Linked DNA regions of Homo sapiens: region 1 is linked to region 2. The links come from fine-mapping of genetic effects on gene expression. Tissue or cell type: lung. Region 2 holds a variant in brackets; the other region holds the start of a gene. All regions are shown on one strand. Distances are from middle to middle.

The links. PIP is the estimated chance that this variant, and not a neighbour inherited with it, causes the effect.
Region 1: it holds the start of LMF1, and the variant in region 2 is fine-mapped to the expression of LMF1 in lung (TOPMed, PIP above 0.99).

Annotation. Positions count from the first base shown.
Region 1 is chr16:967,704-975,703 of GRCh38, forward strand. It overlaps LMF1 (lipase maturation factor 1), which reads right to left and starts at 3,281. Exons shown (of 11, transcript NM_022773.4): 1 at 3,085-3,281. The coding sequence starts at 3,277. LOC124903620 (a long non-coding RNA gene) reads left to right here and starts at 6,366. Exons shown (of 2, transcript XR_007064935.1): 1 at 6,366-6,908; 2 at 7,638-8,000. RefSeq lists enhancers at 1,486-2,477, 4,460-5,450 and a silencer at 2,523-3,692.
Region 2 is chr16:876,219-884,218 of GRCh38, forward strand. It overlaps LMF1 (lipase maturation factor 1), which reads right to left. Exons shown (of 11, transcript NM_022773.4): 6 at 3,352-3,519. Among named protein-coding and RNA genes, the nearest start is that of LMF1-AS1, 41 kb to the right of the region's middle. The variant G/C (reference allele first, on the strand shown) is at 4,387.

The DNA.
Region 1 (8,000 bases), 91 kb after region 2:
CCCGAGAACGCCGCTGCCCAGATGTGAACCGGGTGTCCAGGATACGCAGGCTGCACAGTGGCGTGAATGAAGGGCAGGGCTGAACTCCAGGGCCTACGGACAATCGCTGCACAGCCGGGCCAGTGGCTGACCCTGCTTCCTCGCTGTCCACTGGGGGTAGTGGCGTTGTCACCAGGAGGTCAGCACCGGGCAGGGTGCTACTTCAGCATCTGCTCAACGCAGTAATCACACTAGGGACCCGAGTCCACACGTCAGGAAGACAGGTGTGTCTTCAACTCTGAGCCCTGTGAAAATGCCGCTTTCCGCTAACACACTCCGGCTCCCACAGCACAGCAGGGCATGCCCGACACCCCAGGACGCCCGCGGTATGCACGTCTGTGTGCAGTGAGCACACCCCTAGCACCTACACACCTCGGTGGCAGCACATGGAAACGCCCAGGCCCGCGGTGGGAAGGAGCCAGCCCCAGGACGGATGCAAAGTCAGGTTGAATGCAGAGGCCTGTCGCTGGCAGCCGGCCTCTCCAGGTCTGGCTTCGAAGCTTCCCCGACAGGGCAGGCGTTTCTGTGTTCTCCTGATCTGTACATCTTTACTACATGTCTGCTGAGACAATCTGCCTAAGGGTAAGCCTCCCTCAGTTCAATGTCTTTTAACAAGGGGAGTTTCCACAGAATACATTTGGTTATGTGTTTAATTACAAGTGTTTCAATAGCTATAAACATTGTAAAATTCAGTATCAAGTGAAATATTTGGAGAGCCCCTATGGCAACTTGGAAAAACCCTGGGATTCTGAGGAACAGGGAGTAGCGCACAGTCCCAGTAAAATCCAGAACTTTCTAGAAGGAGATAAATGCAGGATGACTGCCTGCTTGCCCTGGGCCAGCTCAGCCAGAAAACCATGTCCCTGAAAGATGGGAAACTGGTTCCTTGATACAGCAGAAAAACACTGATTCTACCCCAAATGTACTCACAAGACAGAAGAACGTGCATATGTCAAGGAGAAATGTTCAATGCTGGGCACCAGGCTTAAAATATCCGCTTGACCCAGTGGCTTAAAAGCAGTTCCTTCTGAATTGAACAGAGAATCCCTGCGGAGATCAAAGGAGCCTCAGCTCGTTTGAAAGAGTCTGAGCTGGTTTTATGAAGCTGTGCTCCGGAGGCAAGGCCGCTGGGACTTCCTGCTGTATCTCGGGCTCCCCTGTGGAAGGCCTATTAGAGCCTCACAGCTTCACTTTATCTCTACTTCATCGTTTGCTAAGTGACAGCACCAACATTTAAAATGACTGTTTAATACTGTGGAGGGAAAAGCAACCTGGGAAGAACTACTTTTTAAAATAATTGCAGGCCGGGCATAGTGGCTCACGCTTGTAATCCCAGCACTTTGGGAGGCCCTGAGGTCAGAAGTTCGAGACCAGCCTGGCCAACATGGTGAAACCCTGTCTCTACTAAAAATATTTTTAAAAATTAGTCAGGCATGGTGGTGCGTGCCTATAATCCCAGCTACTCGGAAGGCTGAGGCAGGAGAATCGCTTGAACCCAGGAGACGGAGGTTGCAGTGGGCCGACATGGTGCCGTTGCGCTCCAGCCTGGGCAACAGAGTGAGACTCCGTCTCGAAAAAAATAAATAAATAAAATAAAATAGTTGCTTTAAAGAAAGAGAGAGAGAGACACAGACCCAGTTGAAGCCGATACTGCAATCCCACAGGAAACCTTGTAGTGATGAGCGCGTCTCATCACTTTGCACCAGGAGGTGGAAAGTATCACACAAATGTCACACAAAACGTCGAACTGAGCATCACTCCAGCACAACCAGGCTACCAAACTTCCCGCGACGTGTGTGGCACAAAGGCTGTGCAAAGAAGAACTTCTGCAACCTGACCCTTTCCTTCCACACGTGAGGGAAGCAGACGATGGAAGGAAAGGGAGACGTCCAATGCCCACGGCCTACAACCAACGCGTGGGCAACGCCCGGGGCCAGCAGCTCCGGAGCCCTCTGGGACGGTGACTGCCCACGCGCCCCGCTGGCTGCATCTCGGCCTGGCAGGCTCCCCTCACTTCCATACTCATTTGAGAGCCTCACTTGAGGTTCGTAGCTCCTGACACGTTGGGCTTATGAAACATGTATCCGTGTGATCACATGTCACCGTGATCACAGAACCGTTCTCTTCCAAACCAGTTCTGGGTTGTAGGGACTGGGGAGAGAGGGAGTTGGAATCGCCAGCTGCCCCTGGCCAGGGGATCCAGAGGTTTTGAGCGTGAACTGACTTTTCTCAGAGCTCTGCTCTGTAGGCTGCGCACGCGGGCCCCGCACAGCTGTGGGGTGAAGGGTCTCCGCCAGTGGACCCGGCCAACCACATCCCACAGTGAGGCGCAGGCTTCACTTGCAGATGAGGTTCCGGAGCTGCCCCCAGACCTCCGCTGGGAATCTTCCCGAACGCAGACTGAGCTAGTCGAGAACACTAAAGGAGAAACTCCAGTCTGGCCACCAGCCAGTCACCTTCCCTCAGCCCCTGGGAGACGCGAAGGAGGCTCCCGGGCCGGCTCCTCGGATTTTGGCAGGGGCCGCACGCGGCAGGGATGTGGCGTGCGGGCGTCCAGTTACAGTGGGAACCTTCACCGTCAGCACAGCGCTGTGTCGGGGACAGCAGGAGCGCCTCGCCTCTCCAGGCCGCCCCCCGCCCCGCAGCCAGGACGCAGACCCCCGACCTGCGCACGGACGGGTGACCCTCCACCTGCCCAGCTCTCCTGGGAACTCCTGGGCCAGGGCCCGGGCCGGCCCCGCCTCGCATAGCCCCGAGCCGGTCCTGGCAGGCGCGGCCGTGCAACTTCGGGGCTGCGGGTGGAACCGGGAGCCCAGGAGCCCAGGCCGGAGGCTCGAGGCGGCGACAGGGGTAGGGCCGGGTGCGCTGTCGCCAGCAAGCCTTGTCCTGCCCTGCCCGCCCCGCCTTGCCCGGGCCCCAGCAGGAAGGAGGGCTGCGTGGGGGCGCCGCGGCCGCGAGACCGCGCGGAGGAGTCTCGAGGGAGGGCGGGGGTCGTGGTGCGCGGAGGTGACACTGGCGGATGTCCCGGGCCCGCCCGGCACTCACAGTACACGAAGGCTAGGGCCTTCAGGAGCACGATCCGGGTCAGCCAGAAGGTGCCCGTGTGGAGATGGGCCGGAGAGCCTGCGGGGCCACGCCCCGGCGCGGGCGGCGACTCAGGCTCCGGATCCGAGTACCCAGTCTTCCGCCTCCTCAGCGACTCCGCGGGCGCCGCCATTGTTGGGCTGTCAGGGCGCATGTGCGGGGAGGGCGCACTCCCGGAGGCCCCGCCCATTCTCGGAGGCCCCGCCCATTCTCGGAGGCCCCGCCTCTCCCTGGCCGGCCCTGCCCACGGCCGAAGGCCCCACCCACACCCCGGGAGGCCCCGCTCACAGTCCCGGAGGCACCGCCCCCTCCAGCCGGCCCCGCCCACGCGCGGGAGCGGGTGCCCGGAGCCTGCCTCCTTCGCAGTTCTCGCTGGGCGCTGCTGCGGGTAGGGCGCGGGGCCGGGTACCTGGGAGGTGGTGCGCGTCGCCCGACCCGAGCTCACTGGGGCAGGCACGCGTGCCTTCCGTCAGTCCGAGTTGCAGAGGCCAGGTGCCCTCCCCCAGCCAGGCGCCTTCCCAGCTGTGGTCCTGGGGAAGGTGGGCTGCACAGGCCCTGGCGGTGCTACCACTGCGTGCCCCTGCCTCACAGCTGACACTCACTCTCTGCGGAGGAGGGTGCTAGGGCGATCGTCGCAGCCAGCAAGGGACAGAGTAGGCAGGGCTGTGCCTGGAATGCTCGGGGGACCCTCCCCTTTCTCCCAGCCTGAGCACCCTTCCGCCTTTGCACAACCCAGCTCCTGCCTGCCCTTGGGACTGGACTTCAAGCTGTGGGGGAAGAGGGGGACTCAGGACTCAGGAGGGAAGGGCTAACTGCCCAATGCCCCAAACAGAACATGAAGGAGGACGCCAGCACTCTACACTCTGATGACTGGAGCGGGGTTCTGGAGGCTGATGTGAAGCGGGTGCTAGGAAGGGCTGGGGTCACAGGCATTCCTTAGAGGAAAGAAAGGGCGTGAGGCTAGAGTAGGCATTGGAGACCTAGGGGTTAGTGAATAAACTGTGGGGCACTTAGGTGGAAGTGCAGATTTCTCCTTATTCATTTGTCAGCACTCTTTACGTATGAAAAATCCTGTTCTTTTGTGTATATTGGAAATATTTGTCCTGGTTTTTTGTTTTTGTTTTCATGTATTCTTCTCTTTTGCCTCTCTAGCTTTCCTAGTGTTTTGGCGTATCAATTATCGCCACTGGGTTGGTCAAATGACCCGTCTTTATTGCTTGTTTAATTACCTGTTTAATTATATCTTCACCACCTGCAGTGTGAGCCTTGTGTGGGCAGGGACTGACTGTGGACATCGGGCCCCCAAATCCAGGCCTGACCAGCAGTGGCCCGAGCTTCCTCTCAGCCTCCACCTTCCCTGTGTTGCTGGGGCCGTAGCATACGTGTACATCTTATGGTTTAATTCATTTTTAGTTTCCATTTCTTTTCTATGAAACCCCCCTTAGGAGCCCAGCTGTGAAATGGGACCCTGTTAAAGATGTTGCAACGGGTACGAACACACAAACATCCTCCGCATGCTGGCCCAGCCTCCGGGAGCGTGGTGTGTGCCTGAGGGCTCGGAGCCTTGGGGATCGCAGGAGGCATCGGCCCTGGCTGGCGCCCGGCACCCAAGTCCCTCCACAGAGCCCACGACCCGTACCTCTCCTCGTGACCTGGGGGCCAGCTTAGGAAGGGCCGGCACAGCCCACACTGTTCCCCTCATCTGTGGGGAACAGGGAGCCCCACACCCTGGGACCACGCCTGCAGAGCGGGCCCTGTCTGGGTGCCAGGCCTGCTAGGGGACGGACGGCGAGAGGGACTGCCCTGCGTCAGGTGTGGCCCTGCGCTGTCCTCAGGTGGGGCTGCCCTCACAAGGAGGCTTTGTGCACAGCTTCCCCTCGCTGGGCCGAGCTGCTCTCCCCGCGAAGGGCACAATGGGGCATTGTGCAGAGCAGAAAAGGGCCTCTTGTTCCAGCTTCCAGCGCTCCGGGCTCCGGCTCTGCATTTGCCCAGGGTGGGAGCAGTCAGCGGAAGGGTCTGCTGGGAGCTCCTGTTCTCTCTGAGCTCAAGTTTCCCTCAGGGTCTGCTCTCTTGAGACGCTGACCGCAGGGGTCCCATCCACTGCCCAGAATGGCTCCAGAGCAGGTCACCGGGGGCAGGGCTTGGGCCGGGGAGAGGTGGACCAGCAGCTCTGGTCGTGCCCATTTCAGCCTGAATTTAATCAAAAGTGCACTGGGTTATGATTCAGCCATCAAAAAGAATCCAGGAGCCGGGCGCCTGTCATCCCAGCACTTTGGGAGGCCGAGGCAGGTGGATCACCTGAGGTCAGGAGTTCAAGACCAGCCTGGCCAACATGGTGAAACCCCGCCTCTACTAAAAATACAAAAAAATTAGCCAGGTGTGGTGGCGGGCACCTGTAATCCCAGCTACTCGGGAGACTGTGACAGGAGAATCGCTTGAACCCGGGAGGTGGAGGTTGCAGTGAGCCTAGATCGCGCCACTGCACTCCAGCCTGGGCCACAGAGCGAGACTCTGTCTCACTAAAATAAAACATAAAATAAAAAGGAATCCAGTTCTGACACGTGCTACAACACAGATGAACCTCAGAACATCAAGCTCAGTGGGACAGGACAGACGCGGAGGTCATGAGTTGCGTGAGCCCATTTACATGAAATGTCCGGGGTGGGCAAAGCCACGGGGAAAGGAGGGAGCTCTGTGGTCCAGGTCTGGGGACGGGGAGTGGGGAGCCAGTGGTCCGGGGGTAGGACGTTTTCTTTTGGGCTGATGAGAATCTTCTGGAACTAGGCGATGGCTGCCCAGCACTGTGAGGTGCTAAACACCGAGTCGTTCACTGGCAAATGGCTTATTTCATGCTATGTGAATTTCGCCTCGAATTTTAGAAAAGTAAAATGAGGCCGGGCACCGGGGCTCACGCCTGTAATCCCAGCACTTTGGGAGGCCGAGGCGGGTGGATCACGAGGTCAGGAGATCGAGACCATCCTGGCTAACACGGTGAAACCCCGTCTCTACTAAAAATACAACAACAACAACAAAATTAGCCGGGCATGGTGGCGGGCGCCTGTAGTCCCAGCTACTCGGGAGGCTGAGGCAGGAGAATGACGTGAACGCGGGGGCTGGAGCTTGCAGTGAGCCGAGATCGTGCCACTGCCCTCCAGCCTGGGCGACAGAGCGAGACTCTGTCTCAAAAAAAAAAAAAAAAAGTAAAATGAAAACAAAAGACAACAGACAGCCCTGCACTGGTGTTTCAGAATCGCCCGGAAGGCGCTGTCACCTGTCGGAATACATCATGTCATTTACGCTCACCTTACTTCTTTGTCTATATTAAGGCGCATCTAGCAGTTTAAAAATAACATTTAGATACAGGTGTGTCTTATTCTCTAAGAAGGCACTTCACTTAAAAACAGGCTTCTCTGCAAACCCAGAGTGAGCTGCAGCGGCCGGGAGATCGGCCAGGTGTGGTCCTTTCACCCTGCAGCTCAGTGTCCTGTGACCACAGGCACGTGGGCCCTGCCCTGAGCGCCTCACACCAACCCGAGGCGGGAGGAGGAGGAGGGCGTCCTGAGAGTGCCCTGTCAAGCAAAAACTCTAAGAGAAAAAGCCAGGCTGACCCAGGAGAGGCCTGAGGGAGGGGAGTGGAGATGAGGCTCGGCCACCCCAGGGCTGCCCGGTGCTGGGGGAGAAGACGCTGAGAAGAGGAGGAGAATGGGGAGGAAGGGACGGACACCCCAAGAGCACGCAGGCTGAAGACTGGGCTGCCTCCCCGGAGACCGACCAGCCTGCCCTAGGTGGGACCCTGTCCCCGCCGTCCCGGCCTGCGCCAGCACAGCCCCCAGGACCCAGGCACACACAAGCCCGTGGCTGGCCACGCTCCCAGCAGCTGCGGGCCGGCTTCAGGGAGGAATGAGCCCCTGTCGGCACCTCGTCCAGCTGTCCCCCAGCACCCCGGCCTGGCAGCTCCCGCCTCCTCGGGGCCATTGTCCCTGGCATGCGGTGGCAGCTGTCTCTGGCACCCGCAGGAAGCCAGTGTGGGCCCGAAGATAATCGTGCACCCTTCATTTACCCCAATTTTTCATGTCCTGAAGTCTGGGTATGGAAGGGGGGCCCAGGACCCGTGGATGCTAACATCTGTTGCCTCCTCCTGGAAGGGTGGTCAGTTTGGGCAGATCCTGCTGTGACTGTCCAGCGGCCAACCCCCCCACCCCCCACGTGAGGCTGGCAGGTGCGGGTGGGGGCTGAGAGAGCAGGTGTTGTGCCATTTGCTGGTTGTCCTGGGACGATGACTCACAGACGGCTGTTCTGCTTGGCTCACCCTGTCCTCTCCCTGCACCCTCGGCTACAGGTCACGAGTGTTCCCACCCCTGCACCCCAGAAGGAGATGCGGCTCCATGTGACCCTGCAAGCTGGCAAGCCATGGTTTCTAGACAGTGGAAAGCACAGCTCCCAATGTGGTGGTGTTCTCCGGTTGCAGGGCCCTATGTTAGGAAACGAATGTGTAATTTTTTTTTTTTCTCTAGGAATCATATTCTGCACTGGAAGAAGCCTTGAGAGTTGCCTGGCCCAGAGGTCACAAACCAGAGCCCTGCGGGCTGAGCTCTACCCACAGTGCAGTTATCAGTCACCGTGTAGCGGTCACCGACGGCCACATTAATGCTGCGTAACAAACAGCCTCAGAGCCCACCGTTGTGTGTCGCCAGGCGGTGCTGTCCATGCCCAGGCCCCAAGAAAGGCAGGGGAAAGGCTGAGCTGGGCCTGTGCCCTCTGTCCCTTCCTATGAGCCTCTAGAGCAAAGCTTTGCTGAAGGCTGTTGTCTGAACCAAGGCCACAGAGGAAGCACGCTCCCTGCTCCCACTTTGCCCCTCGTACCCGCCTGAGGGCAT
Region 2 (8,000 bases):
GCAGGAGCCCACGCGCGGCCGCGGAGGGCAGGAAGCCAGTCCGCAAAGGCTGCACAATGCTTCCCACTCTAGGATGTCCGGAAGAGGCAGTACCGTGGAGACGGAGGGTCGGCGGGGCACAGAGAACTTCCAGGGCCACAAGCGACTCTGCATGAAGCTGTGATGGGGACACGTGTCGTCGTCCGTTTGTCGGAGCTCACAGAATGAGCAACACTGCGAATGGCTCTCCTGTCAGCCGGGACTTTAGTTGGCAACAGTTTATCAGTCCTGCCTATCAACTATACAAGGTCCTGGCCGATGCAAGACGCTGAGCGCAGGGAAACTGGGAGGGGGGGATAAGGGAACCTTTGTAGTCTCTGCACAGTTTTTCCGAAAATCTAAAAGTGTTCTAAAATAAGTCAATTAATAAAACGAAACAGAGCTGAAACACTGGAGCAAAGGACGCAAGTGGCTTGGGGCGGACAGAGGCAGGCTGGGTGGGCTGAGGACCTTGGACAGAGGCGGGCTGGGCGGGCTGAGGACCTCGGGGGGTCATGGTGGCAAAGATGCTGCCCAAACTGAGACCTTCAGTAAGTTAACATGGCTGATTGATTGATAACCACTGAGGAAACAGAGGATCTTCCTTATCCATTAGAGGAGGGAAAATAACAGAAAAAAACGAGAGAGAAAGATACAAAGAACAAAGAGAAAAACACAAAGATGTGGAAATACGTCCAAATATGTCAGTTGAGATATACGGGCCTGTTACTTAAAAGAGAAAGACGGCCACGCTGACCCTAAGCATGACCTTGCTCCCCGCTGTCTCAGGAGATGCGTGTCGGTGAGGACACAGGCCTTGAGGCCGGGCGCACACCTGCAGTCACGGCACTTTAGGAGGTCAGGCAGGAGGAGTGCTCGAGCCCTGGAGTTCAAAACCAGACTGGGCAACATAGCGAGACCCCCAGCTCTACAAAAAATGAAAAATAGCTCGGCGTGGTGGCACCTGTAGTCCCGGCTACTTGAGAGGCTATAAAACTAAGATAATACTATGACTTTTTTTGCCAAAAGATTTGAAAACAGATGAACAAATTCCCAGGGAAATGTTCACCACAAAAACTGCCTCAAGTCAAGAAGGAATGGAAACTCTGCGTGTCCTACGGCCCGCAAGGGTGATCAGTCACAGAGACCCTGGCGGCGCAGGTGGCCTCATGCAGGAGCACTGCCAGGTGTGAGGGACGGTCACCTCTGCTTTCCAGACTCCCGCAGAGGAAGAGGCTCAGATGTTCTGGGAATGTGAACTTGCTTCAGCATCCACAGCATTAATGTAACTCGCCACGTTACAGACGAAACAACAAGTCATCTCGTGACTGATGGAGAAACGCCACAACTCAACATCCATTCATGGCTAAAAACCCACAAAGGAGAAGTGAATAAAAGCAGCCACGAAAACAACCCACAGCCGGCATCGTGAGAGGCAGTGCGCGGGGTGGCGGGCCCTCCCTGCTGTGGGACCCCAGACCCAGGACAGCACTCGAGCCCGCCCAGCAGGGGAGAAAGGGATGGACGTAGAACCGGCAGAATCCCTAGATCACCCACAGGACGCGTCTCTGAGGGACCCGCAGACAGACGGGGAAGTACCAGTGCAGAGGTTGTCTGAGAAAGGTCAAGGTCACCAGAGTCCCACACTTAGCCACCAAGAGGAGGAAGTGTGACTTAAAAGGGCACCATTTACAACATCAACAAAAAGAAGTCACCTCAGAGCTGCAGCCTACAAACGCGCGTGGGGTCTGGCTACACAGAATCCACTGAAGCTATTCCAGGAGCCCCCAAACACACATGGGGTCTGGCTACACGGAACCGACTGAAGCTATTCCAGGAGCCCCCAGACGCGCGTGGGGTCCAGCCACATGGAATCCACTGAAGCTATTCCAGGAGCCCCCAAACACGCGTGGGGTCCGGCTACATGGAACCGACTGAAGCTATTCCAGGAGCCCTGAGCAGCTGCAGAGAGAAACGTGCGGTCCTGGCTGGGGGACGATCTGTGAGCAAGTCCGTTCTTCCCACTTAGATTCACGGCGACATCGATGCCCACAGGGAAATCACCTGATGGGCACCGGTGCCAGCCTCCAAGCAGCTAACGCGGAAAAGCCCGAGGGAGTCAGGAGCTGCTCAGGGCCCCGGCGGCCAGAGTGAGGGTCCTTGCTGGGGGGAGGGGTCAAGAACAGCACAGCCACCCTGGACACGTGCAGCTTCCAGTAAGGTGAATCACAGGCCTGCTCACGATACAGTAGCGCCCTTGAAAATACATCCACAGGATGACGAGATTGCACCTCTGCACGGCAGGCTGTGGTGAAAACCAGAAACTACCACACGTGCACAGACGGGACGGGTGAACCGACCGCAGGCACGCACCGTGAAACAGGACCCGGCCAACAACCATGGGCGCCCCCACGTGCACCAACGTGGCGTGGCACCCGTGCCTGCTGACGGAGCTTTGCCCCTCTAGGCGGCGGTGCTCTGGCAGGGGTGGGCAGGGCAGGGGAAGGGCGGGGGCAGGGGCGGGCAGGGCAGGGGAAGGGGCGTGGGACACCCAGGTACATCTGTTTTCCAGAGCACGTGGAACGCCACCTGGACCTGTGCATTTTCCTGGCTGTATGTTACACCTCCATTGAAACAATCGAGAGAGAGAACCACCTTTAAAATCCCCACCACATTTTCCTTGGGAATTGACAGTCGGAATGTAGCGTTTACAGGGAAAAGCAAAGGCTCGGGACTGGCCCAGCCCCCCTGGAGGCAGCGTGGGGGTGCTCTGTCCTTCGAGGCGCCCTCAATGCAGGGGGCTTGTGGGGCAGGGATGGCGGTGACTGTGGGCAGGACGGGGCGTTAGGGGGTACCCGGGGTTCCGGGGGCTGGGGGAGGCAGCCCCTCACCCACATGGAGGCAAATGACCCTGGCCTCTCTCAGACCCTGGTTCCCCGTGGACTGACATGAACACTTGAAAGGAAACCTCTAGAATGGAAGAATCTTAGGAGTGGATCCCAGGAATGTGGGGGTGTCCACACAGGGCCTTGGCGTGCTGACCCCGTCCCACTGCCGAGCCCAGGACATGGCCGGGCCTCTCGCAGCTGCAGGAAACGCTCTTGGGAGGAGCCAGTCCTTGGAGGAAGCCTGGGAAGGAGACCCTCAGCCTGCAGCCCGGGACAGGGCTGCAGTGGGGCCCGTGACACAAACGAAGGCTGGGGAGGACAGGCTGTCCCCAAGAAAGGGGGCCTGTAATGCCCCAGGGTCCTCCCAGAGAGCGGGGCAGCCAGAAATAGGGCGACGGGCCAGCGTCTCTGTGGACACGGGGCAGGGCGGGCGGCGCGGGCTCACCTGGAACAGGATCTGCAGCACCCCGTGGATGATGCACGCCCGCCGGCCGAGGAAGAGGAAGAAGGGCACCAGGAGCTCGATGAAGTGGTTGCTGAGCGTCTCGAAGCGATGGAACCACCAGGGTGAGTGGTGCAGGTAGTACGCCACAGGATTGGGCATCGGCTGGGTCTGCAGGGACAGGAGGGGCCGTGAGGTGCCTGGCCGATCTCGGGGGGCGGGGCTAGGGAGAGGCTTGTGGGTCCCTGGCCCCCTGACCCCGGCTCCTACTGCACACAGGATCCCCCCGGCCCGCCTGGCCCTGCACACGTGGAGCCCACCTGCCACGCTAAGAGGGGCCAAGAGACATTCAGGGAGCTTTTGAAGCAAAAGCAAAGTGTTCATTTTTGTCTTAAAATCTTTACCATCTAAAAGCAAAGAATACACACCCCAGCTGAAGGAGAGACGACACCTGTAAACCCCGTGCCCAACTTGAGAACACAGGCAGTCGGAGAACAGGCAGTCGGAGAACGCGCCGCCTGCTGCCCACAGGCGGCCAAGCTGCAACCCCCAAGAGCCGGGGTCCACAGGCGGCCCCTCAGGCTCAGGATGCCCTTTCCCTGGGGATGGACACGTGGGTGGGGACGTGCCGGTTGGGGACCAGCAGGAATGGGGCCCGGGTCCCGAGCCCAGCTCAAGGCTCTAAGCGCAAGACCTGGCTGTGGGGACCTGGAAGCCTCCCAGGCCAAGGCACAGAGAAGTCCCCACACCTAGGGTCCCACTCAGCAGCCCAGCCAGGAGGAAGGGTGGGAACTTGCCCTGCACCATAATTCAAAACTATCAAGGCCAGGCACGGTGGCTCATGCCTGTGATCCCAGCACTTTGGGAGGCCAAGGCAGGCAGATCACTTGAGCCCAGGAGTTTGAAGCCAGCCTGGACAACTTATCAAGACCCCATTTCTATAAAAATAAAAAATTAGCTGGGCATGGTGGTGCGTGCCTGTAGCCCCAGCTACCCAGGAGGCTGAGTCAGGAGGATCGCCTGAACCCAGGAGGTAGA[G/C]GCTGCAGTGAGCCACGACTGTGCCACGGCACTCAGCCTAGGCAACAGAACAAGACCTTGTATCAGACAGTCGATCCATCAATCAAGTCAGAGTGGTTGTGCAGACTTGTCTGGAGTGAGAACACCCCACTGGCAAATGGGGCCCAGGCCCCCACACGCTGTTTTCTGGAAGCCCCCAACAACGGGATCCAGAGTGGCACTGCCAGGGCTGTGTGAGTCGGTGAGCCCAGGGTGGTGGTGGGAAGAGTGCCCTAGATGGACGATGCTGCACGCTCTGCTTGCCTTTGTGGAGGGGCCTGCCCGCATGCTGCTCAGGGCTGAAGGCCTTGCTAGCACAGCCCGCGGGAGCCATTGGGCCTGGCACAGCCGCAGAAACCCCACTAGGGACAACAATGAACACGCCCTGCAGGGAGGGAGGCGGCCCCCAGACGCTTCAGAATCCGCACCCAGGTCCTGGGACTCCCAGGGTCCAGAGAGGCTACGTGGAAGTCGGGGCCCCCAGGTGGCAGAAAGCGCACATAGGGGCTGTGCTGGGCAGCGCTTGCTCCGGGGTGGGGGTGTGGGAAGCGCAGGAGAGGCGGCCATGTGCACACCCGAGGGGGTGACCGGGCACAGGGCCCCAGTGCACCCCAAGAGCCGTGGGCTGGGGAGGGTCCTGAGGCCTCTGCTCATTTGCTTAGAGGGCAAAGAGTTATTTTTGTTTACACTGAGGCTAGGAGAAAACATCATGACCTGAAACTTGGCTGTGAGCCGTGAGGTGGGTGTGGCAGTGTCGCATGCTGCAGGCAAGGCCAGGAGTTCCCGTGCAGCTGGGACACTCAGCCCGCGGCCAGGGGAATGGTGGGTCAGGGCATGGCGGTGCTGCTGGCCCAGACCTCAGGAAACAGCCTGCAAACTTCTCCTAAAAAGACAATTTTAAATAAGAAAAACATGAGGAAAGAGTGAAGGGGATGACACCTGTTTAGGGACTTAGAAGGCAGCAGATCTTGGGGGAGAATGAGTGTCGTCTGTTAGGGCTTGAGTGCCCCATGTGGGACCCACCCCCTAGTGCCCACAGGGAAAAGCCAGAGAAGAACCGGAATGCCTGGTCTGCCACTTCCCTTTTAGGCTGCTTGTTGTGTGTTTGGGGTTGCGGCGAGACCCATGCAGGAGGCAGCAGGCTTGGCCAGGTGTTGGGAACAAGCATCTCCAGGGCTAGGCCCACACCCGAAGTCCCAGCTCTTGGTCTGGCTTTTGGGGTGGGGGACTTTAACCTCTCCTTCCCTCTTGCATGCTGGGGCTGCTGACGTGTGTCGGCTGAGCTCTGACGGGGAGGGGAGCGGGGGCTGCTTATGCTTATCAGGTGAGGGTCTTGGGATGAAGAAGGAGGTCCCATGTGTTCCAGGAACAAGCCAATCACAAGCGTCCCCGTGGGAAGCGGCCCTTGGATGTTTGTGTCCCGAAGTGGTAATTGCCACGGGCTCTCAGAACCTCACCTGGGAAAGGGCCACAGCAGGGACACAGTGCGATGCCTTTGTGGACGTGGAACCCCCACTTCCCACCAAGGCAACTGCAGATGGAGAAAAATGACACTGAGTGATAAAGACGGTGACAAATGTAACAGACATGGGGCTGACATGACCCAATGCTGTGTTAAAAAGAGAAGAGCATCAGGCTCAGCTGTAGTGGCCACTGCCCCTCCTGAGCATGGCTCGCCTCCCCTGGAATCCCAGCCGACCTTGGGACTCAGCTTTGGCCAAGAGAATGCAGCGTGAGTGATGTTCTGAACTTTCAAGCTCAGTCCTTGAAGAGGCAGCTCCAACCCCATTAAAGGTCCCTCTACTCTGAGGCCACCAAGCTGTGAGGAAGCCAATGGTGGCCATGTGGCAAGGCCACCGGGAGATGCACTAGGTTCCAGTACAAGTGAAGCCTTCCTGGACCTCCCGGCCTAGCTATCAGCTCGTGAATGACCCCACCTGACACCACGTGCAGCAGAAGAGCCACCCAGGGGAGCCCATAACAGGACCAGGAGAAAGTTGCTACTGCTCAGGAGAAGAGCTGCCCAGCAGAGGCCATCACAGGACCAGGAGAAAGAGAAGCCAGCAAGCAGGGCCCATCGCAGGACCAGGAGAAAGAGGAGCCGGCAGCAGAGCCCATCGCAGGACCAGGAGAAAGAGGAGCTGCCCAGCGGGGCCCATCGCAGGACCAGGAGAAGGAGGAGCCGGCGGCAGAGCCTATCACAGGACCAGGAGAAAGAGAAGCCGCCCAGCGGAGCCCATCGCAGGACCAGGAGAAAGAGGAGCCACCCAGCGGAGCCCATCGCAGGACCAGGAGAAAGAGGAGCTGCTCAGCAGAGCCCATCACAGGACCAGGAGAAAGAGGAGCTGCTCAGCAGAAGAGCTGCCCGGCAGAGCCTATCACAGGACCAGGAGAAAGAGAAGCCACCCAGCGGAGCCCATCGCAGGACCAGGAGAAAGAGGAGCCACCCAGCGGAGCCCATTGCAGGACCAGGAGAAAGAGGAGCCACCCAGCGGAGCCCATTGCAGGACCAGGAGAAAGAGGAGCTGCTCAGCAGAGCCCATCACAGGACCAGGAGAAAGAGGAGCTGCTCAGCAGAGCCCATCACAGGACCAGGAGAAAGAGGAGCTGCTCAGCAGAGCCTATCACAGGACCAGGAGAAATAGGAGCTGCTCAGCAGAAGAGCTGCCCGGCAGAGCCTATCACAGGACCAGGAGAAAGAGAAGCCGCCCAGCGAAGCCCATCACAGGACCAGGAGAAAGAGGAGCTGCCCAGCAGAACCTGTCACAGGACCAGGAGAAAGATGCTGCTGCTCTAAGCCACTGAGGCTTGGGGTGTGTTGGGCAATAGCAGATCTCTGAAACAGCCTGAATCCAGAAGCCAAACAGTGTTGAACTCTGATGTTACTGGGAAAACCCCATTTTAGAGAAACCAAAGTAAAAGTCTTTCTGAGTCTTTGGGTAACAGATACTTAGTACTGACTCACACACCCTCCACCCCAGACAGGGCTCAGCACTCGTACCCGTGTAAGCCTCCTCACATCCTGGAGAGGTACAGAAACAATATTTGAAGAAATATTGGCCAAATATTTTCCGAATGTAATGACAATGATAAACCTATAGATTCAAGCAACTCAGCGAACTCCAAGCACAAAAAATATGAGGAAAACAACACCAGATAACCAAATGGTCACATTTTACTGCATGACAATATGACACTATTGATCACTTTGATTGTAGTTTGATTGACAAATAATCAAATTGTCACAAACTGCCTATAAATGTTAATTAGATCATGTTGGTTAGTAGTGTTTTTCAGCTCTTTTACATCCTTCCTTATTTTCTATCTACCTGCTTTATCTATTATTGAAATCTCCAACTTTATGGATTTGTCTATGTCTGCTTACAGTTCTATCCATTTTTGCTTCATGTCTTTTGAAGCTCTATTATCAGGCGCATACGTGTTTGAGAGTCTTCTGACCTCCTGATAAACACTGTGAAATGGCCTCTTTACTCCTGATCATATTCTTTGCTCTGAATTCTGCTTTGTCTGGTGTGAAGGTGGCCAGTCCAGCCTTCTTGTCACTCATTCACGTTTTTGGTATGTTTTTCCATCCT